Linked DNA regions of Homo sapiens. The protein of the gene in region 3 purifies or fractionates together with the protein of the main gene of each other region. This does not show direct contact. Each region holds a gene or a part of one and is shown on either strand. Other genes may lie near its edges.

Region 1 (7,023 bases), on a different chromosome or scaffold from region 3:
ATGAGCTGAGATCGCACCACTGCACTCCAGCCTGGGTGACACAGCGAGACTCTGTCTAAAAAAAAAAAAAAAAAAAAAAAAAAAGAAAATGATAAAATTATGATTCCATCAGTTCTCTGAAATCTACCTCAACATTCTGGAACTCTCCACAGCCTGTTTCCTTATCCCTACAGTGAGACAGTAACACCATGGTGCCCTCCCATACAGGCTGATAAGGACTCAGCCAGGCAGCACAGAAAACCCAGCAGTCAGTGTGTGTGGAAGAGAGCAGGTGCTCAACACATGTGAGTTTTCAATGTTACTATGAATAATAGGCTGAACATTTCTCTCTGACTTGTTCCTCATTCACCTACCATCTGTCTGGACTTTTAGTAAACCTGCAACCTCCCACCAAGGGACTTACCCTGGAGCAGGCTGAGGTGAGAGGCAGGAAAGGAGCTGGCCTCCAGCAATCAGCTCAGTCTGAGTCCCGGTGAAGATGTCTTGGCTTTCCATCAGCTTCCGGATCTCATCTCGGGGCACAACGTGGCCACCAGCAAGCACGACATTAATCCTTGGATCTGGCAGCAACACCAAAAAAGAGCGTTTGCTCTTCACAGGCACTCCCTAAAACGAATCTGCTCATTCGCCTGGAACTCACTGAGACTGCTTCACAGCATGACCAGCATCGACCACCTCTCACCACCCCAGGCGTCCCAGGTCCAACCCAGCGCCCTCTTCTCTGCCTCCTGTCTCCCTGCTCCTTGGCCCAGGACACCTGCAGCCAGCTACCATGATCCTATTAACACCCAAGTCAGAGCACGGCACTCACCTGCTGACAACCCTCCAACAGCTCCCATCTGACTCTGGATAGAAGCCGAAGTCTCGGCCATGGCCCCCCAACTCTGTGGCCTCACTCCTCCAGGTCTCTCCACCTGGCCTCCCTGCCATATCTGAAGTATTAGAGGCCTTGGGATCATGGCTCCTGATCCCAGAAATGCTGTACCTGGGTATCTACAAGGCTTCCCTAGGCCTCCTGGGACCCCAAGCCTAAGACTGCATGCCCTCTTCCCCTCTTTGCCTTCCTCCCGAGCTCTGGCCACTTCCTGGGCTCCATGTCACCTGGCTCCCTCCAGTCCCCGTGAGCGCAGGGGCATCTGCACGCAGTGCAGCCTGGCACGTGGTAGGGGATGAATGTATGTCTCTTGGTTACATGAGAGAAAGCAGCCTGCATTAGGAAGGACCCTGGGAGGCCACGCACAGTGGCTCACACCTGTAATCCCAGCACTTTGGGAGACCGAGGCGGGCAGATCACCTGAGGCTGGGAGTTCGAGACCAGCCTGACCAACATGGAGAAACCCCGTCTCCACTAAAAACACAAAATTAGCCAGGCATGGTGCTACATCCCTGTAATCCCAGCTACTCGGAAGGCTGGGACAGGAGAATCACCTGAACCCAGGAGGCAGAGGTTGCAGTGAGACGAGATGGTGCCACTGCACTCCAGCCTCAGCAACAAGAGCGAAACTCTGTCTCAAAAAAAAAAAAAAAAAAGGACGACCCCAGAAAGAACCCTAGCCCCAAGCCGAGAGAAGCCTGCTCTGTGACCAGGACAGTTGGGTGGTTCGGCATAACTTCTCCAAGAGGCATTTTTGACAGTAACTAGCAAACGTGTTCATTCCCTGAATCCAGAAGTTCCACTTCTAAGAATTCATCCTAAGGAAACAATGCGAGAGTAACAGAAATGTGATCCCCTCCCCCCACCACCAAATATCCGACAAACAGCATGTACTCAACACAGGCATGCATGCACAGGTCAGAATTTGGAATTCTGGAAAAAGGGGAAGGGGAATATAATTAGTGCTAGAGGAAAAAGCTTGTATAAAGGACAGACTGAGATAGAAAAACCCAGATACAATGAAGGGAACCACATGCTAAGGAAAGCCGGGATTGTAAGGAGAACCAACAGCCTAACAAAGTATCTTTTAAAACAAATGTTACAATCCAGCTTCTAATGCCCCAGGCGAGACCCTGTGGGGAAGGAGGCTGGGCGCATGTGCCAAAGAACTCACACAATGCCCAGACAGCTAAAGAGTGTCTGACGGTAAATGTTTATCTCACCAGGCTGGTCAGTCTCGTGAAGCTGTAGTTTTTCTCAGTGACTGTATTAAATCCACTTTCGCACTCATTCGATACCCGAGTGACCGCATGCAGGACAACCTCGCAAGCCAGCACCTGCCGACCCGCCTGGCCCCACCACGATGCAGAGCCCCGAGGTGGCTGTGCTTTCTGCCAGCACTGGCCACTCTCTCTCTCTCACCCCCACTGTGTCCTTCCATAGAACAGAGACCCCCCCACCTGACACCCCTGCCACACCATCACCTGGACCCTTGGGCCCCAGCCTGCCCCAGGAACTCCAGAACCACACCCAGTGAGCCCACGCTCCAGGTGGGCAGAGGCCCTGGAGGCAGAGTTCCGGGGTCCCCACCAGGGCAGAGCCAGGGACAGGGCGCACCCCCACCCCATGCTTGTCAACAAGAATGAGCACTGTGGAAGCAGCCAGGGGCCTGCTCCTTACCAGGAGCTCAGGCGTGGGCCCTGCCAGGACATCAGCGGGTTCTACTGCCCCTCATTGCTCCCAGCCAGAGTGGGTCCCTCGGGACAGGAGGCAGTGTGCTCACCCTGTCTTCACAAGCCACACACCTAAGACTGTGCATATGAAAGGGACTCGGAGTATTTGTTGAAATCATTTAAAATGTTAAATTAAAACTATGTGGGATAAACATAATTAAACCAGGAAATACTGGTAGAACATTCAATTTAGGAATTGCAGTCAACCCTCAGTACACTCAGGGGATGGGTTCCAGGACCCCCAGAATGCCAAAATCCGAGCACCCTCAAGTCCCACAGCCCACCCGTGGAACGCAGGTGCATGGAAAGTCAGCCCTCCATATACGCCAACTTCACCTCCCACCAGTACTGGATTTCTGAGGTTGAAAAGAATCTGTGTATAAGTGGACCCTCTAATGTCAAACCCAGTTGTTCAAGGGTCAGCGGTAATCCGATATGCTACATGGCTTCACTTAAACTACATGAAGCTATATAAGTTTACTTAGAAAAGACAAGACGGTCAGTTAGCTGTGTCTCGGATGCTGTGTCTCGGATATCATGGGCACTGGTGATGCACTCTTGGGGGGTTTTCTATTCTCTTCTCTATGCTCATATGTTTATAAGAATATGTCACAGCCCCCGAGACAGAGAGGAACATCAAACCAGAAAACAGTCACCCCCTACTCCGCCCCCCACCACCCCTGAGCCTCTGGAGGGACAATAGCTCCTGCTCCTCCCAGCCCTGTCTCAGAGGCATGGGGCTGTCTGGGGCTCAGCAGCTACAGGCGCATTCAGGAGGAAGAGGACGTCTTACCCTGGCCCCCCTCAGCTGGGTCCTGGCCCTGCCACGGGTCCAAGGTTCTCTCCCCACACCCACTCTCATTGCCGACGTCCAGGCAGCTGGCCAGGTCTGGGAGCTGTAATGAGCTGTTGTACGCAAGGTCCATGTAGCTGTAGAAACCAGGAATCAGGAAAGTGATATTCTAGAAAACAAAGCAGGGACATTTCAGAACCTGGAGGATCCACGCTGACCCACTGGACCGTCCCCCTGGGGGAGGAATGAACACAAGGAGAGCCAGTCCCTGAGGGTTCACCCTTAAGGTCAGGAAAGGCCTCGGGCCAAATGCCCTTCGACGCACCTGAAGCCCCTCAGATGCTCAACATGTGATCTGTGATTTTCCCCTTAAGAAAAAGGTAAAAACATACTCTGCGGCAAGTTACAGTGACATCGACACATCTTTGGAGCAGACATCTGGCCTTTGGCCCCATGTTTAGATGGATCTGGGAGCCTGTGTTTGCAAGCCTCACCTCACGCGGCTCACTGGTGGCCGGAACAGTGACATGCACCCAGGACAGAAGGACTGTGGGGCCTTCCTCCCAGGCCAGGAGCTGCTCTGACAGATGCTTCCTCTGAACCTGTGTGTGGCCCCCTCACCGGGACACTGCCCATAGCTGTAATGCCAGAACCCGCTCTAACCTCACAGAGGGCACAAGTGTCCATGCCCCCAAAATCCCTGCAAGGTCTCAATGCCCTCAGCTCCTGTGGGAACCCCTCATCCAGGAAGAACACTAACTGCTTTTTAACTAACTTAAATTTAACGTAACTACAATTCAGCTTAGCTACTTTTTAGTATTTCTACTAGGGTGAGAAATGAACCCCCGCAGTTGTGTCGTAAACCCTGGTCCATCAGTCAGACCAGATCTCTCAGGGCTTCGAAGCACAGTGCTCCTCTCCCTCCGACGGTGGTTGCTGGGGAAGGGTGGAGAGGAAGGAGCTTGGCAGCCATGAGCAGGGACCTCCCTCCCTGGACCCAAGGTCCTTCCTGGGTAAAGGAGCGAGCTGGAGAGCTTGCCGGGTGCGAGGCCTGTGCCACACGCAAGCCCGCACTGCAGAGCACAGCAGCTTCCTCCCAGGGAACGGGAGCCAGGCGCCCAGGGCAGCCCCACCTTGCCCAGGAGCTCCGTCTTTCCGTAACCAAACAGTGTCAGCGCGAAGCTGTGGTTGATGCCGTGGATGGTCCCATCCGGCAGGAGGGTGATGAGGCCACTGATGGTGCAGAACACCCAGACAGATGCCCGGTAGCCGCTCACAGGGGCCGCCTCACCGGTGGTCGCCTCCTCGCTGCTGGGTTGGGATTTCAGCTTTAAGCTCAGAGGGAAGGTGGTACCGTCCCTGGCTCTTCCAACAGACCTCTGAATCTTGAGATTCTGAAAGAAAGGCTTGTCGTTTGGCTTAAGCCGTGTTTCACGTGGACAGAGCACTGAGTCTGTGCTGCGTCCGACCCGACTTCTACCCCACGTCATCGGGGAAGGTCCCCAGGACATCTCACACCCACACTGCTCTGCCTTCCCTCTCCTCCCAGGCCCAGCTGGCCCAGGAAAGAGCCCTTCTGTGGGTGGGGAGGACTCAGTGTCCAGAGCCGCCCCAGGCACAGCAACCCCAGGGCAAGTGAGACACCCCAGTGAGGGGCCGGGCACCAGCAGGGAGGGAGGGAGGGAGGACTGTGGGGCTCAGGCTCGGGGCTCAGCCACGCCACTGGCAACTGTGCCATCCTTGATCTGGCACCAGGATACTGGCCCCACAGGCAGCACTACACCAGCTGCGCAGCTGTGGATGTTACCTCCCACCCCTCAGCCTTGGGCAGCGTCCCAGCATCCACCTCTGTGGGTGGCCCAGCTCCTGGGAGAAGACTCAGGGGACAAGAGTGGTCAGCTGGGAGACCACATAGGCTCCGGCCCTTGGTCAAGGCCTCAGCGCACAGGAAGCTCAAAACTGAGCATGTCCCACCCCTAAGGCCACCCTTGCCTTCAGAAACCCTTGGTCTGCGTCTCCAGTTATGGATTCAGAGCTAAGAACTCCACCCCATCACACAGTGCGGGAGGTCAGGAGCCCTACCTTTGGGATGTGCTGGCCAGAAGGAGGGAGCTGCACAGAAGGGATCAGGTCTGTGATATGCTGCCCAGCCACGTCCTCCCCAGACACGTACCCGTGAAGATGAGCAAAGAGACTGTCACATGACGTGACGGTGCCCTGGAGGAAAAGCCCCGTGCTTATCATAAAAGCTTCTTGTGCTCCAGCTGTAAATTTAACTAAGCTTCAATATGTTCAAGCCAAAAGCAAGACCCCAACATGACTTCTCCATCGGAAGGGCAAGAGACATATACACATGAATTTGATAAGAGCTTCATCATCTGTCTCCTTCTACCAGAGACGTACCTAAATTGTGGGCCTTCTTGTTCTTCAGGAGCCTGGCCCACACCACAGCTCATTAATAACATCCCAGTTCACATATGAGGGCTGTCTCTAATGCCAGCTACTATCCTGGGGGGTTTACATATATTATCTCATTTAAATGTTGAAACAATCTTATGAGGAGTTATGATTATGCCCCAGTTCACAGGTGAGGAACTGAAGTATAGGAAGTTCGTTCCCTGCCCAAGCACACGCAATCAGCGAGGGTACCACTGGGCAGACCCTCCAGGCTCCTCATCCTCTCTTTCTTCCCAAAGGAATGAGACAGGGACCAGCACTTGCTGAAGAGGAGAACGACGCCGGCTCCAGCGTCCATGAGACATGAGGCAAAGTTGCACACTCACATCGCTCTGGAAAGCGACCCAGGTCGAGACCCTCTCCACGGGCTCCAGGACCACCACGCAGCATAGGCGGCGCTCCTGCCGCATCCTCTTCATCCACACAGACACTGGAATCTTCTCCCCACTACGGCTGATGATGTCCACCTGTGGAAACAGACAGGTTCACACCTGCATGCCATGAACCCAAAAGACCAGTATGGGTGGGGCACCTGCCTCCAGGAGGCCCAAACTCCAGGCACTGCAACGTTTTCAACTTCTGCTTACCTGATTTTCATTTCAGAAATTTACCAAAGCACAAACAAGATTTCCCATACTGAACATTAAAATCTCCAAGTGCAAGTTTTATCAAGAGAGTAGATTTCATTCTCAGTTCATGGTAATATTGCAGGGTGAAAAAAGCAGTATCTGTTATTTCTTAAAGAAACAGACACCAACACATGGTGAATATCTTAGTTTTTTTCTTCTTAGTAGTCAGTTTCTTGAACCAGTGATTTTCTGATACAATTGGTCCTAAGCCTGTGACATCAGTTCAGTTCAAGCAATGGGGTCTTCTGTGTGAAAGCCACACACTAGGTGGGAAACAGGCAACCTGGAGGATCTGGATGACTACTAGAGCCTCAGATCATACCCCAACCTCCACTGCCCTCCAACGCTACTCCCCCAGTCCCCGACCGGCTGACGAGGGGAAACCCTACAATCAGCCATGCCTTGGGCTTTTTCCATGCCTTGGGCTCAGTCCTCCACATCCAACTCAGCTCACCTGTCAACATCCAGGTTGGACACATGGCACAGGTGAGAGAATCAACACTGTCTAGGGAAATGCTTCCAGGCCAACACCCCCGC
Region 2 (7,023 bases), on a different chromosome or scaffold from region 3:
ATCTTGTTAACTGAAATAAAGTGAGGTACATGGAAACATTCAATTTATTAGTTGTGCTTTTTGCATTGATTTTAAATCAAAGCTACTCACACATCAAATCTTATTGCTATTACTTCAGTTTCTTCAAGAAATGGTTCCTTTTCAAGTTATTTCAACAAATGTAAGGTTGTTCCATACTCCTCTTTCTACAGGCCTGAAGAACTTCTCTGAATCATGGTAAACTCTAATACTTTGTGATTTCTCTCACAGTGCTCCTTAAAATACTAATGCAGATGGAGAGATTTAGTAAATCATCATGTTCAGTAAATAATGACTAATTTGCTCTTTCTGCTATGGCTCCTCAAGACAGAACATGTGGTTTTGCTCTCTGATGGTCTTGAAAGCCTTGTGTAGAATTTATTAGGTTATACATGTTTTTGAGTGGTAAGTTCCAGCTTTTTGGTTTGTGGAAGGAGCCAAGTCAGAGCTTACTTACCACTATACTCCTCATCTAGAAGTATTCTCATCAAGAACATGAGTTCAGTGTTAGACTAGGCTTTAGTAACATAAGGGTGCTATACCAGTGCATACATTTTCTGGGGAGCTGGAAAATTCAGATGACCACTCACTAAACATAAAATCATCATTCCACAAAGATTTTATTCACATTAAACTTGCACAGTAGCAAAAAAAATCAAAACATAAAACTAAGCCACATATCAAAGAACAATATACAATAGAGATTTGAATTTCTCAATAGCATTGGAAGGTATTTCCATAAATAACATTTACAATTCTAATGTTAGGACTTTCAAGGTGTCTGAAGCTTCACAGTGCTAGAATTGATTTTTATCAGAACACATGCAAAAATGTGCAACATAATAATTCATATTAATGACACAAAAAAAAAGCACGCCAGTTATTTGTCATTCCAGCACGGCCATGCCACTCTATGTTCTAAAAACAAACAAACAACCCCCCAAATCCGGGTCCCATTCATTCTTCAATTATGCCTTTAGTCACTCTGCTTTATTATATTCAAACAGTCACTGTTAGTGCTCTTCACCACGACTTTCAGGTTGACGTCACTCCCTGCCTGCTGGCTGTCAGGACTGGGGGACGCCCCTCTCCCAGACTCACCTTCTTCCGGATGTCTTCATCATTTGCTCCAAGAGAGGCATAGAGCTTGAATGCAGCCTGGCGGAGTTCGTGAGCATGTTTTAAATCATGATCAAGCTATGGGGAAAAAAAGGATATGTTCCAACTCAGTCCATAAATTCAACTTTCAATAACATTAACTGAGTTGAAGAAAAAAAAAGTTTACAACTTTTAGATTTTAGTGAATTTCCCAGTCATTAACTACATTTCCCAGTTATTTTTGGATTCTGTTCACATAGCACTGAGACTTTGCAGTGTTCGTATCAATGTGACCTAAAATGCACACAATATGCTTCCATTTAAAAGTGAACACTATATTTGACACTGATATATGAAAAACCATTGTGAATCTCTGACTCCGAAAAATTCAGTGTTCCTAAATGGTAGCTTTACTGGCACTAATGCTTGCTTGCAGCAGCTCTTTGAAATGTTCTCCTTCAAAAGAAGGCACACCTGGACTTCTCTAGCCCCAGACTACAGCTGATAACCTGAATGAAATCGCAACAATGTCTTTAGGAGGGTTCCCTTAATTTTCTGAAACATTAAGAGTAGTGCTGGCCTAATTTTGGCATTTAAAAAGCTTTTAGAGGCCGGGCGCGGTGGCTCACGCCTGTAATCCCAGCACTTTGGGAGGCCGAGGCAGATGGATCATGAGGTCAGGAGATCTAGACCATCCTGGCTAACACGATAAAACCCTGTCTCTACTAAAAATACAAAAAAATGAGCTGGGCGTGGTGGCAGGCGCCTGTAGTCCCAGCTACTTGGGAGGCTGAGGCGGGAGAATGGTGTGAACCCAGGAGGCAGAGGTTGTAGTGAGCCGAGATCGCGCCACTGCACTCTAGCCTGGGCAACAGAGCGAGACTACATCTCAAAAATAAATAAATAAATAAAAATAAATAAAATAAAAAGCTTTTAGAAACAGAGAACCCATTGTGAAAATGCTTAACAAACCGTATACTATGGTAACCATTATTATCTATTACAGTTATCTGAGATTTATGTTGGGTATGGGTTTTTTCAAGAACATTATCAAAATTATCAGCATGAAGCAATTAATGGTATCTTTAAACATGCATAACTAATTATCAACTCTTCTATAAACTTGATCACCAAACTACTGTAAAGATAAAACAGAAGCATATTTTCAGGATACTTTCAATGACTGACTATGACCAAGTAACTATACAAAGTCTACCAATAATATAAATAACCTCGTAACTAAAAGCCTTAATGTAATCATCCAAATGAATACCACTTTTCCCAAAGAAGTTACTTTGGAAAGGTTCACTCATCCAATGATGTAGGTGTTGTTCATAACATTCTGAGACCCTCTTTTGAAACTTCCTAAAGAGCTAACTGGTATTATTAGCTAGAAAACACTGACAGTGGTATAGCTTGATCAATGATGAGACTTTTAGTTGTCACTGACTGTGTGTGAAGATGGAGAAATTCAGTTGGGTAATATAACGTAGGTAACAAAAAATTCCACAGAAAGCAAAAGACAATATATATATTTTACATATATATATAATTTGGGGTGGCTCTGAAGGCAATTCTTAATAGTTCCAAAACTTCTGTTCAAAGCAGACACTGATGGATTATAGGAAGAACTTCCCAATACAGAATACTCACTTTGATAAGTTCTAAAAGTATCTACTCTTAAAGTCTTAACTACATTCTAGTCATAAATTAAGATATAATACTGACTTGAACTAACATATCATGAAAATCACAAATTTATTAACATGTGAAGATTTCTCTTTACGGGTCTAGTGTCTATACTTTTCGGGTCAGAAACCTTTGGATAATCCATCATCAAAAATAAAGATGACAAAACAAACTATTACTCAAGTTTGGTATTACGATGTCATTTTTAAGGATTATTGTTGTTACAGTTTTACTCTGATGGAAATGAAATGGAAAAACTAACAGAAGGGATAATCTACGTACTAGTTAAATGATTTGCATATGCATAGGCTACATGTTCTTAAAATTGTTTCCTTACTCTCATGGCCATCAAAACATTTTATTTGCCTTCCTGGGGTGGTCAACTCAGGGCGTTCATGAGGCAGTAGCTAAGGGTTGCTCATGTATCTTTGTATTGGTAAGATACAGTGTCAGTGTGAAAAAATGACCAGAAGGAAAACAGACAAGGCAACTGGTTAAATGTATGTAACCCATCACTTCTACTGGAAAAACACCACTACTGAAAGAAGAGCAGACACATAAGTTTAATACCCAGAGAGTAGAGTACATTACTAATACAAATACCAGTGAAGGTTATTTTAGGCCCTTCTTAAGACAGAGTAAAGATATACCCTTAATAGTTTGCTTTATTTTCAAAGTTAAAAGCCAAATGAACAACTGCCTACCAAATGAGGTTTTTTGAAACTCAAAAGCATGAGGGAGAGGTCAAAAGGAGAATAGTTACCATTGGAACCACTGGCATGAAAAATACAGTTACATTCATGAAACAGTACTGGCTACTAATTAAGAGGCAATGTTCTCTCTACCATGACCTCCTTGAATAAACTTTCTCTTACAGAATGTTCATCTCCTATGCTTAAAGAAATGGATAGGGCAAACAGGCTGAGATGCAACAAGTCAAAATAAATACCGATCTATTCTAAGGAACTTAGGTTTTCAGAAAAAGCACAATTTGGCCTTTTTGGTCCCAAATTCAAGATTAAATGATGCTTTAGCTGTCACTAGCAGGCCCAAAGCACAGTATGAAACTGGGAAAAAGAGAAGATAGGGAAAGGTAACAAAATAGACTGTGGTGGAAAGTAACATGGGACAACTTAGTCTCCTGTAACAAAAAGATTACTCCTGACCTAAAGAATGAGAATGTAACAACAGAGATGATTCCATGACCAAGAATAAGATTATACGGTTATGTCAATACCCAGCTTGGAGAATCCACTACTTTTGAGGTTTAGTTGGGGAGTTAGGATGCAATTTTCTTTATTGCTTATCTGCTCAGTAAAAACTTTCTGACAATAAACATTAAACAACTTGGATTCAAAAATTCACAAAGCAATATTATCTATGTTACCAAAGATAAAAGAACCTTTATTTAAAAGGGCTTTAAGCTGTAGTTATCAATTGGTTCAAAACTGTGAACAGTAAGAAAAACTTTAGAAAAATCTCCCTTGAGCTGCTAAAAAAGGAAAATAACATACCCTTTTAATATCAGTGATGGCACTCACTGAGCTGGGATACTTGAAATAATCAGCAAGCATGGCAATGAGGTGATCAGTTATGCTAGCGATTCTCTGTAGCTCAACATCTGGTTCAATCAGATAGGCAAGTGTCTCAGCTCCTTCAACTCTCTCCTCTAGTAATCTCTCCTTACTGCACATTCGAACCAAACAAGGTAATGTCTGAAAGGTAGTGAGATTAATTATTTGCTTTTTGGTAAAGGTAAAAGCTTAAGCATATAGTGACTGAATCAACTCAATAGCTTTTATCAGGAGTAATGTTTATGATCATATATTTCCTTTACTGACTTCTAGAGAATAAAAGATTTTTTTAAAATGCAAAAACAAGCAAAATTCAGTACACATTAATAATTTGTACTGGCACATTAAACTCTATTCGTACGTCAAAGTATATTAATACAAATTCTAATTAGGCTTTTGGGACCGATAAGACAAGTTTTATTGTACAACTTTGTAAAAGACATTTAAGAATCCCTAACAAATCATGTCTGATGGTTCTGCCCTATCTATCTATTTATTTACCTAAAAAAGACCCAGCAGTTTAATCAGGAATGATTTTGCCTTAGGAAAAGTATGCTATCTCTTCCTTAGTGAGTAATATCGTTTATTTTTTGGTTTGGGGAGTCATACCTACAGTTGCCAAAACAAAATACAGCTTTAAAACTGCAGTGATCTTACCATTACTCAGATTCCACCAGTTCTACTATAATGCAACTGAAATGTATCACAGTTGCTAGGTTTTCCCAGTAACTTGCTGGAATTAGCAGTGGTATCCATGAGTCCAATTTTACTTCTGAGGTCCCTCAAAAATCTTGGCAATGGTTTGGTAACTTATCTACATTAGGTTCTCAATAAAAATATTACAGACATTTACTATTTCTTTTTCTTTTTTTTTGAGACGGAGTCTCGCTCTGTCGCCCAGGCTGGAGTGCAATGGCACGATCTCGGCTCACTGCAACCTCTGCCTCCTGGATTCAAGCAATTCTCCTGCCTCAGCCTTCTGAGTAGCTGGAATTACAGGCACCCACCACCACTCCTGGCTAATTTTTTATTTTTAGTAGAGATGGGGATTCACCAGGTTGGCCAGGCTGGTCTCGAACGACATTTACTATTTCTAAGCCTGACGGATCCACTTGAAAGGACAATGTGGAAGTATAAATTGAAATGTTATCATTATAGAAAGTCTTCCTCAAATACTGCAGGCAACTGTGCTTTGCTCTTTTATATATAATAAGTTCCTATTATATCTTTTACCACAGAGCTTAGCACTTCATCGTTCACTACTAATTTCCTATTAGGCTAGTAGAAGCTTTATAATTCAACCCTAGGTTTCCAAGGGGAAGGCCCTATTCTTTTTTCCCTAACATTACTAGTTACTAATATTTATTGATACCATAAATTCATGAATTATGTAATCTAATGCTCATGACTACTATGTGAAGAATATACTACTAACATTTTACCAATGCAGAAAAAGAGGAAGGTTAGAGAAGTAAATAAATCAAGATAAATGCTATGGAAGTCCGTGGCACTCTATGAAGAGTTGTTTACTTAGGGAGTGTTCAGATCTCATTAAATTAATTCTCTTCCCCAAAGACTAAAGCAAATATTAGTCTTCTTTGTGCTCTTTTATCCTTGGGATCACCTTTTGAACAATGATAATGTGAGATCTCATATTTATAAAATGACACATCATCAATTTACTTATACTTAATTTTTTATAGCTAATAAGACATTTTAATGTATTTAATATATTGTTATCCTCACAATAACCCTGTGCATAGATGAGCAGGAATTATTGCTTCAATTTTCATAATCTGGAGTCCGAGGCATCAAAAGAATAAAGGATGTACAGTCAGAGGTGGGAGTGCTAAAACCAGAATCCAGGTTTTAGGACTTTTAGGGCTGGTCTTTTCTCCAGGTTTTTCTAAATTCAAGTTGTATATGACATATCACAATGACAATGCTTGTTTTCATGTGTTATCTACTTATTCTCTTTCATTATGCCTTTTGATTATCAGCTATGAGAATGATATAAAGTCTTTTTCTGCAAAAGTGGCAAATCGTCTGCCTCTAAAACTGTAGTACAAATTTAATGACAATCAAGAACGAAATATATTTTCTGTTTCACCTGAATTGTACACTTTTACAATTTCCACATCCTCCTAATTACCATAAAATGAAAGGCTGTGACAATGAAATAATTATTTCACGCTGACTTTCGAAACACATCTAAAATCAATTTTTAAAAACTATATGACATCCACTGAAAAGAAAGCATGGTCTTTCAATATTATTCTACGCCATGCACATATATCATAATGATAAATGTGTAAAATGAAATATGAGTATCAATACTGATATTTAACACATAACTGGATAATTTTCACATTTTAAAGATAATTAATTAGCTTACCTTTAATACAATACAGTTATCATCTGTCCGAATTGCTCCAGCTCTACACATGTAAGTTAAACTGGAATAAGACAGCAGAAAATAAGTTTTTGCTTGGAGTTTAAAGCTTTAAATGAAAAATTATTTGCCTTTAAGATTTTATTAAAAAATCGAAAACCAAATAATATCACTTATCTTGAGAGTGAAGATTTTGACAATTCGCTTTTCGGAGGTTCAGTCAATTTAATAGTCAAAGAAAACTAACTGACA
Region 3 (7,774 bases):
TCAGAGTATATAAAAGACCCAGGAAGCCTCTCCCACAAAGGGTCAGGCTCTTTGTAGCATCTCCTCCTTGGGGCACTTCCCATCTCCCAGACCTTTCCATCGTTCATCCCCAGCCCCACCTCACCTCGGGTACACAGGGCCACGCAGTGACCACCGCGGGACCAGGGCTGGTGAGCAGCCCAGTATGCAAAGTTCCAGCGGCTGCCGTCAACCCACTGAAAGCGTCTGCAGCGACCCTGGAGAAAGCAAGAGGGGAAGAAGGGATGGGGCAGAGGGAAGGCAGAGAAGCAGACCTGGCCCCGTATCTGCCAGCTCTTTCTGCTGCCCACCGGGCAATGGGCCCTTCCCTGCTGGACCATGATGGGAACTGTCCTAGTCATCTGAAATGCTGATCCACGGCAATTATCACCATCAGATTCTATGCATCCCAGTGACAGGCTTGTCCTTCCAGCCCTAACAAAAGGTAGAACAAGGGTTGCCAACTCATCCTAGAGATGAGGAAACAAACTCATGGTCTTGTTTTAATTTTTTTTTTATTTTATTTATTTATTTATTTATTTTTGAGGCGGAGTTTCGCTCTTGTTGCCCAGGCTGGAGTGCAATGGCTCCATCTCGGCTCACCGCAACCTCTGTCTCCCAGGTTCCAGTGACTCTCCTGCCTCAGCCTCCCAAGTAGCTAGGATTACAGACATGCACCACCATGCCCAGCTAACTTAAGTTACATAGATAGTGAGAGATGGAAAGGAACTTGGACCCAAACCTCCTGATTCTAAATCCTTAGCTCTTCCCTGAATGCCCAGGCAGCCCCCTCAGTGTTGTCTGTGGGTGTCCATCTATCCCTGGTTCTTCTGGAGATTATACAGGAGAAAAACAGACAAATCTGATGCAAGCTGAGTGCTGGCTGAGATCAGCAGGTGCACCCCATTTAGTGTTCACACTTCTCTTACCGAGCCTGTGATCCTGCCTCCAATCCAGACTTGACCCTGGTTGAGCGCGCTGACAGAACACTGGATTCGATAATTAATATTGAAGTTGTGGATGGAAACCAGGTTGCCCCTGTAGCACCTCCGGCAAGTAAACTACAGGGCAGGATAAAAGACAAAGAATGGAGCATCCTTCCTACATGAATTCACATGGGTCTTGAGTCCCCACAATTCATTCCCTCCCTCCCCTGCCACAACCATTTGAAGGTTGGAGACCAAAATGCAACTTCTGTTTGTAGGTGGCCCTCCCCTCTTACCCCAACACCTCTCTGAGGCTCAGGTTCTACTGACACCCCCAGGGCCCTCAATGGGAAAAAGAGCCAGTGATAGCAATGCTGGGGGCATATCCCACACCCGTTCCATGCTCCCACCTCAGCCTCAGCCATAGGCCACTCACCCAAGCTTGACTAAACGTCTGAAGACTTCTCACCAGGAGGTAGCGGCAGGTCTGGCACCCAGGGATGCCCACCACTTTTACTGTGTCCTCTTCCTCAGGACACGTAAGGTTTTTGTCCACCATATCTGGCACTGAGATAGACTCAACAGCCCCATCTTTCTTGGAGGCATCTTCACTTCCAGAGCCCCACTCCTCCTCTTCCTCCAGCTCCCTGCAAGGGGTCTCCTCCATCTCCTGCTCTGGTGTCTCCTCATCCTCAGGCAGCGTCTTAGCACCCAAAGGGGTCTCAAAGGTGGAAGTCTCAGACCCTGGCAGGGAGGATAGCTAAGTGTCCTTCCTTCACATCTCCCCTTGTTCCTCCCCAGAACCACAGACAGCTCACACCTTGCCCTGGGCATCAGAGTGCTCAACTCTGCCTGGGAAGGGGAACCTGGAACCCAGTCTCTATGAGGGGAACCCAAGCTGCCTGACAAGGTCAAGGTGGTTAAGAGCATGGACTTAGAGTCGGGCAGTCATGGGCTTGGGTACTGGTTCCATCATCCACCAGCTGTATTTCTGTGAAATGGGTATACAATACCACCTACTTCATGGCGATGCTAAGAGAGTTAAAGGAGAGAAGGCACTCAGTAAGCTCAAAGTAAGCATAATGGAGAAAGGACAAAATTGGGAATGTCACAGTAGAACCAAGACCACAGACATAACAGACGCCTTGAGAAATCCTTTCAACTCCTGGCCATAGAGTCCCCATCCCTTTAAGCACACAGAAATTCAGAAATAGAAGACGATCAAAGAAGGGGGTGGGTGTGTAACTCTGACCCCATCTACCATAGAAAGGGAAAAAACAGAGAAAGAAAGACTGAAGGCAAAAAACACTTACTTAGATGAAGAGCAGAAACTGCCCCAAATAGAAGAGCCAGAAGTAAGGGGAGTTTCATCTTGGCTTTATCCTGCAACGGAGAACACAGTTTGTCATTGACACACACAGACACACATGCACACACATCACAATCACACCATTAGGGGACCGTGGGAGTGAGGTGGAGAAAAAGAAGGCCTGAATAGAAATCAGGATGGGCCAGAAAAGCTCATGCCAAGCCCAGCTCCTGATGCTCCAGGATCCAGGACGCAAGGACCTCTTTCTAAACAGAACGCAGCAAACCCTGAGGGGTGGCTGAGGCTGGCTTTCCTTCAGGCCCGGAAGTAAAGAAGGGACTATTACGCTTATTTGTTTGTACTTAATGGGTCCCTCAGAGTCTATGACATAAAAAAGGCGGGAGAAGCAATGATTATTGGCTTTCCTAGGAACACATAGGACTTAGAAGGTATGTCCCCTCCTCAGAGTTCAAGAAGCCACCCACACCCTCCTCCATGTCTCCACCATCTCCTTTCCCCAGCCAAGGAGCACTTTCACATCCCGCAGAAGGAATGTGCAAGGCAGAGGATGAAGGCTGCCCCTGCTGACATCCTCATAACCTGAAAGCCACAGGTAGACGCCTGCCAGCCCTCCAGAAACTGTCAGCCACAGCCAGGGACCTCCTGGGAGAATAAACTGTCACCAGCTCCACCACAGCAGAGAAAGCACTCACCCACCCAGAGACCTTCCTGGGTCTTTAGATCTTCCCAAAGCCCAGGTCCTTCTTTGCTTCCTCTCACAAAGACTTCTTATATAGAGGCCTTGGAGGAACTTCCCCCAGGGAGAGAGAGTTTGCCTCTGTCAGAGGGAGATAGCAAGGCTGATAAGGACCATTTCATCACTTCCCTGGGGAGCCCACTCATTCATTCAGTGAAGATTTCTCTCCCGATACCCACTTCAGGAACCCAGGGGCCATCTGGAACAGCTCTGGGCAATGGTTCTTATCCTGGGCTACACTTCAGAATCGCCTTGGGTGCTTTTCCAAAATACATATCTCCCCTGTTTTACTGGTGTTTTGAACTGCCACAAACATTTTGAGAACAAATCTGTCCATACCTATTAAAATAAAAAAATGCACATTTGATCAGTTTCACTCTTTTGAGACTATCCTTTAGGCATAAATGCGCCTATAAGTAATAAAACTTTTACAGAGTTATGTTATTCCTTGACTATTTGTAGAAATGAAAACAATATTGATATCCATCAATCGGACACTGAGTAAAATGTGTCCTCTCTATTCTACAGAATGTTATATGGCTATGAAAAGAAGAGCTGGACCTGTATCTATAAACCTGAAGAGATGTTTCTGTGACATGAAGTGAAAAAAGGCAAGATACTGAGGAAAGTATTTAGTATGTGAATAGTTTTACAAGGAAAAAAAAAACCCCCGCATAGGTGCTTATCTGTGAGCATCCTTATGTGACCATTGATGGAGGGAATGCTAAAAGGAATCACACCAAATAGTTGACCTTGTTGCCTCCAGAAGCAGGGGAGGAGAGGGAAGAAAGCAGGAGACAGATTGTTGTTTATCTTCTTTTTATAACTTTGCATTTCTTCAGTGGTTATGGTAAATGCGTGCTGAATCTGTAATTTTGAGGCTGCCTTATTAAAGATTTTTAAAAATATGCAGATGCCCTGCCCAGAAACTTCTGCTTGGCTAATAGGTCTAGCGTGAAGGTCAGATGTCTGCATTTTTTTAAAAGCTTCCCAGCTGACTGTGATGGAAGATGGGTCTAGGAGTCACTGTCCTGAGGATCTTCAAGTACAGGAAATGTTCACGTATGTCTAACTTCTTTCCTTCTGAATCAGACCACTCAGTTGGCCAACCTACCAGCCTTCATTATGGTAACATTTACTGAACATTTTTAAATGCCATGCATGGCAAGTGGCTGGATGCAGTGGCTCATGCCTGTGATCCCAGCACTTTGGGAGGCTGAGGTGGGTGGATCTTTTGAGGTCAGGAGGTTGAGACCAGCCTGGTCAACATTGCAAAGCCTTGTCTCTACTAAAAATACAAAAATTAGTCAGGCATAGGGGTGGCTGCCTGTAATCCCAGCTACTTGGGAGTCTGAGGCAGGAGAATCACTTGAACCCAGGAAGTAGAGGTTGCAGTGAGCTGAGATTGCACCACTGCACTCCAGCTTGGGCGAGAGAGTGAGACTCCGTTTCAATCAATCATCAATCAACAAAATACTGTTCATGGCAAGTATTACCTCATTTAACCTGATTTTAAAAACCTAGTGAGGTAGGTGGTTGATACCCCATTTTCCAAGTGAGACAACCCAGGCTCTGTGTGGCTCCTGATCTCCCCGCAACACTGCCCTTATTGGATCGATGCCCTGTATACACCCTCTTGTAGCTCCAGGGGCTTGTCCTTATCAGTTAGTCATTTTACTTTTCTTGTGAGATTACTTGGTTAATGGATTAACATCTGTCTTCCTTCGTGATGGTGAAGGCTGCATCTCTTTACTCACCATTGTATCCTTGGTGCTTAGTACAGTGCCCGGCACATAGTAGGTACTTAATAAATATACATTGAAGTAATTAATGGTTAAGTAACGTACTCACGTAAACAACAGGGTTAGAATTCAAATCCAGTTCTTTCTGGCACCAAACTTCTCTCCCCTCCCATATGCCTGCTTGTGTGTCAAAAATGATGCTATCCAGGTGGAGATAAAATCAGAGTGAAGCATAGATCCTGTATTCAATTAGCTTACAACCTAATTTGTAAGATGAGTAAATTGAGGTCAAACAAAAGGAGAAGGGTTAAGACCAAGCTAGGAAACATCCTCTGCTAATTCAGAAGGAAGTCCATGCATAGTAAAACAGAGCAGAAAAGGCTCCATGAACCAAGGAGCTGATTCCTACCTGGATGGAAAGATGCAATTAGAAGGGAAGGAAACAGGCATTTCAAGTAGAAGGAACAGCTTGAGCAAAGGTGTGGAGGTTGGACAGCCTTGGTATATGCACAGGACACTGTAATTTCCTTCATAACTAAAGTTAACAGTACACACATTGGGAAGGAATGAGAAAAACGAGGAACGATGCATTTCATCTTGAGCCGAGGATGGAGATAACCCTCCCCTGTCTCCATTGATTTAAAAAGACAGAAGCAGGAATCAAAGGAATACTCAACAAGAGCCTAGTCAGGAGCTTTGAGCTGGGCTCTGCGCACTCCCATCTGCAAGCCCTCCCCACAGGACCTCTTTGGCTGTTGGACAGAGGATTACTGTCATAAGGTGATGAGAGGGAGCCCATTCTTGGAAACCAGTTGACTGTTCAGGGACCCTCACTCCTAGGGAAGTCTCTCTTTTAGGTCATACAATCCAGGATCTGAAATCCACAGCTTAGCAACCCTGAAAATTTCATCAACATTCACTGGAAGTATACAGCAGTGTCTGAGAGGGTGGCTTCTGGAGTCAGACAGTCCAAGTCAGACTCAAATTGACTGGGTCTAGCACTTAATAGCTGCGTGTCGTGTCCTGGGCAAGTTCCTTAAACTTTCTGTACCTCATATCATCATTTATGAAGTAGGGATGACAATACCTACCTCACTGGGTAGTGTGAGAAATGAATGAGATAATTCACATGTAGCATGCATGCTGTGAGCTGCCCAGTCACCTCACCCCTTCCTGTGGTTTCTTGGATTCCATTTCCTATGGATCTTGGTGGAGGACAGGCCTCTCATTTTTGAAGACAAAAGTTCCTAATAGATTTTCAGCTTCCTTTGCAGCTAACGCATATGACTGGGCTCTATCAAAGAGAAGAAGCATCTATTCAAGATTTTGAATCTGGAGCTAGTGACCAAAAAGATGGAGGCCAAGAAGGCCTCTCTCTGGCGGTGGCGTTGACAAGATTGAGTTCCTGGAGTTGCAGTACCCACAGAGGCACTGCAGGATACATTGATCCAGGGTCTGAGCCCTACAACATCCTGGGTGCCAGACACAAGGTCTAGGTCTCAGCAGCAGTGGGATCCTCCCTAGACCTGTTCTGCAGCCTGACTTTGGCTCCATGTCTGGTTTTCCGGCCCTTCCTGCAATTTCATGAGCTACTCCGTTTCCTTTCAGTCCTGGATTTTTCTACTTAGATCAGCCAAGGAGAGTTTCTGCTGCCTGCCATTAAGAGCCCTGACTGATGCAGCATTTAGCACAGAAACTGGTATTTAGTAATTGCTTAGTAAATGAATGCTACCCAGGGTCTTTGAGTGTGACCAGCATTAATCAAACTTTCAAGAGACTGATGTCTACTTTTGGTGCCAATGACATAAATGAGGTTGAACGGTACTCACAAGGGGCCCACTTGCCCAGGCTCTCTGATAAGCACATTCTTTCCCTGCATCACAACTGTGGTGTGCTCAGGACTTGAATTTCAAATGGGAGCGAAGAGCTGGAGGCCTTGGGGTCCAGTGCCTTTGAGCAAGAGAACGATACCCATCATCTCCGTTTAATCCTCAGCCCTGCCTCCTTCCCCAAGAAATGTTGACTCATCACTGCAGGATCCTGAATCTTAGGCATCCTCCTTTCTAGCCCTAAAGTTACTACAGAGCTTGGAGGTTCCTAAACAGACTCAGTCAATCCTCTCCATACCAGCACTTCCAAAGGGGACCTGACAGATCACCTCTGCATTTAATCTTTTCTGATCTAATTCTCGGGGGGCTCATCCCAACTTTAGGCTTGTGGGGGAGTGTGCTGTAGCTCCTGGTACAAGCTGTCCAGGGTCAGACCTGGTACTGAGGGGTCTGCTCTTCTACAAGAGTGGGCTGTTGCAACAGGAGAAAAACATGTGTGCACCAGGCAGAGCAGAGATCACCTTGGAGATGGTGTCAATACCAAGGAGCTCTTGGGATGCCCCTCCCATGCCCAACCCCCAACACATGACAGCTTAAAGACTAAAAAAACCACCACAGCTCCAGATATGCAGCTCACACTATTCAGCCCTCACCTCCACCTGCATCCCTCCCCACACCCTGCAGCAGAGCTTTTCAACCTGGAAACTATGAATAGGCTTCAAGGGACCATGAACCCTGCAATTATAGAAAACATGGTGTGATGTTTCTAGGGTGAAGGTCCAAACCCTCCATGAGATTCTTTGATGACTTCCCAAAAGGCAAGAGAACCTCTAACTTTACTGAGTGATTTTTTTCTGGAAGAACCAAGAATGACATTCCACTGTTCTTCACCAATAAAGTCCTGCTTGGCCCTTTTGACAGGCAGAATTCAGTTGTCCCCTGGTGCACTGTGCATAATCCCTGGGACTGTAAATATGATGGATTTTACTCCTGTGGTTGTGTGATGTTACATGCCACAGTTGACTTTAAGGAAAAGGAACTGCCCTCTATGGGTATGATCTAATCAGGTGATCCCATAAAAGAGACAGGGCTCTCTTCCTGAAGTCAGAGAGTCCAACCATGTGGGTGATTCAATCCAAGGGAAATTCTCCATCACTGGCTTCAAGGATGGAAAAGACCACGCACGTGGCAAG

The links. The genes of interacting proteins can lie anywhere in the genome.
Region 1: the proteins of PRG2 (region 3) and PASK purify together in Homo sapiens (affinity purification with mass spectrometry; 4 studies listed by BioGRID and IntAct, with this or other methods). This does not show direct contact.
Region 2: the proteins of PRG2 (region 3) and ARMC8 purify together in Homo sapiens (affinity purification with mass spectrometry; 3 studies listed by BioGRID and IntAct, with this or other methods). This does not show direct contact.

Annotation. Positions count from the first base shown.
Region 1 is NC_000002.12:241,132,471-241,139,493, forward strand, and holds part of PASK (PAS domain-containing serine/threonine-protein kinase), read right to left. Parts: intron 6,325-7,023; coding exon 6,184-6,324; intron 5,618-6,183; coding exon 5,483-5,617; intron 4,795-5,482; coding exon 4,534-4,794; intron 3,570-4,533; coding exon 3,401-3,569; intron 1,368-3,400; exon of another isoform or gene 960-1,367; coding exon of another isoform or gene 812-959; intron 561-811; coding exon 404-560; intron 1-403. UniProt on the Homo sapiens protein: Serine/threonine-protein kinase involved in energy homeostasis and protein translation. Phosphorylates EEF1A1, GYS1, PDX1 and RPS6.
Region 2 is NC_000003.12:138,239,280-138,246,302, reverse strand, and holds part of ARMC8 (armadillo repeat-containing protein 8), read right to left. Parts: intron 6,836-7,023; coding exon 6,775-6,835; intron 4,521-6,774; coding exon 4,320-4,520; intron 1,216-4,319; coding exon 1,120-1,215; coding exon of another isoform or gene 1,054-1,119; exon of another isoform or gene 1-1,053. UniProt on the Homo sapiens protein: Component of the CTLH E3 ubiquitin-protein ligase complex that selectively accepts ubiquitin from UBE2H and mediates ubiquitination and subsequent proteasomal degradation of the transcription factor HBP1.
Region 3 is NC_000011.10:57,387,630-57,395,403, forward strand, and holds the start of PRG2 (bone marrow proteoglycan isoform 1 preproprotein), read right to left. Parts: upstream 3,022-7,774; 5' UTR 2,967-3,021; exon of another isoform or gene 2,854-2,966; intron 2,328-2,853; 5' UTR 2,316-2,327; coding exon 2,258-2,315; intron 1,689-2,257; coding exon 1,381-1,688; intron 1,080-1,380; coding exon 948-1,079; intron 237-947; coding exon 125-236; intron 1-124.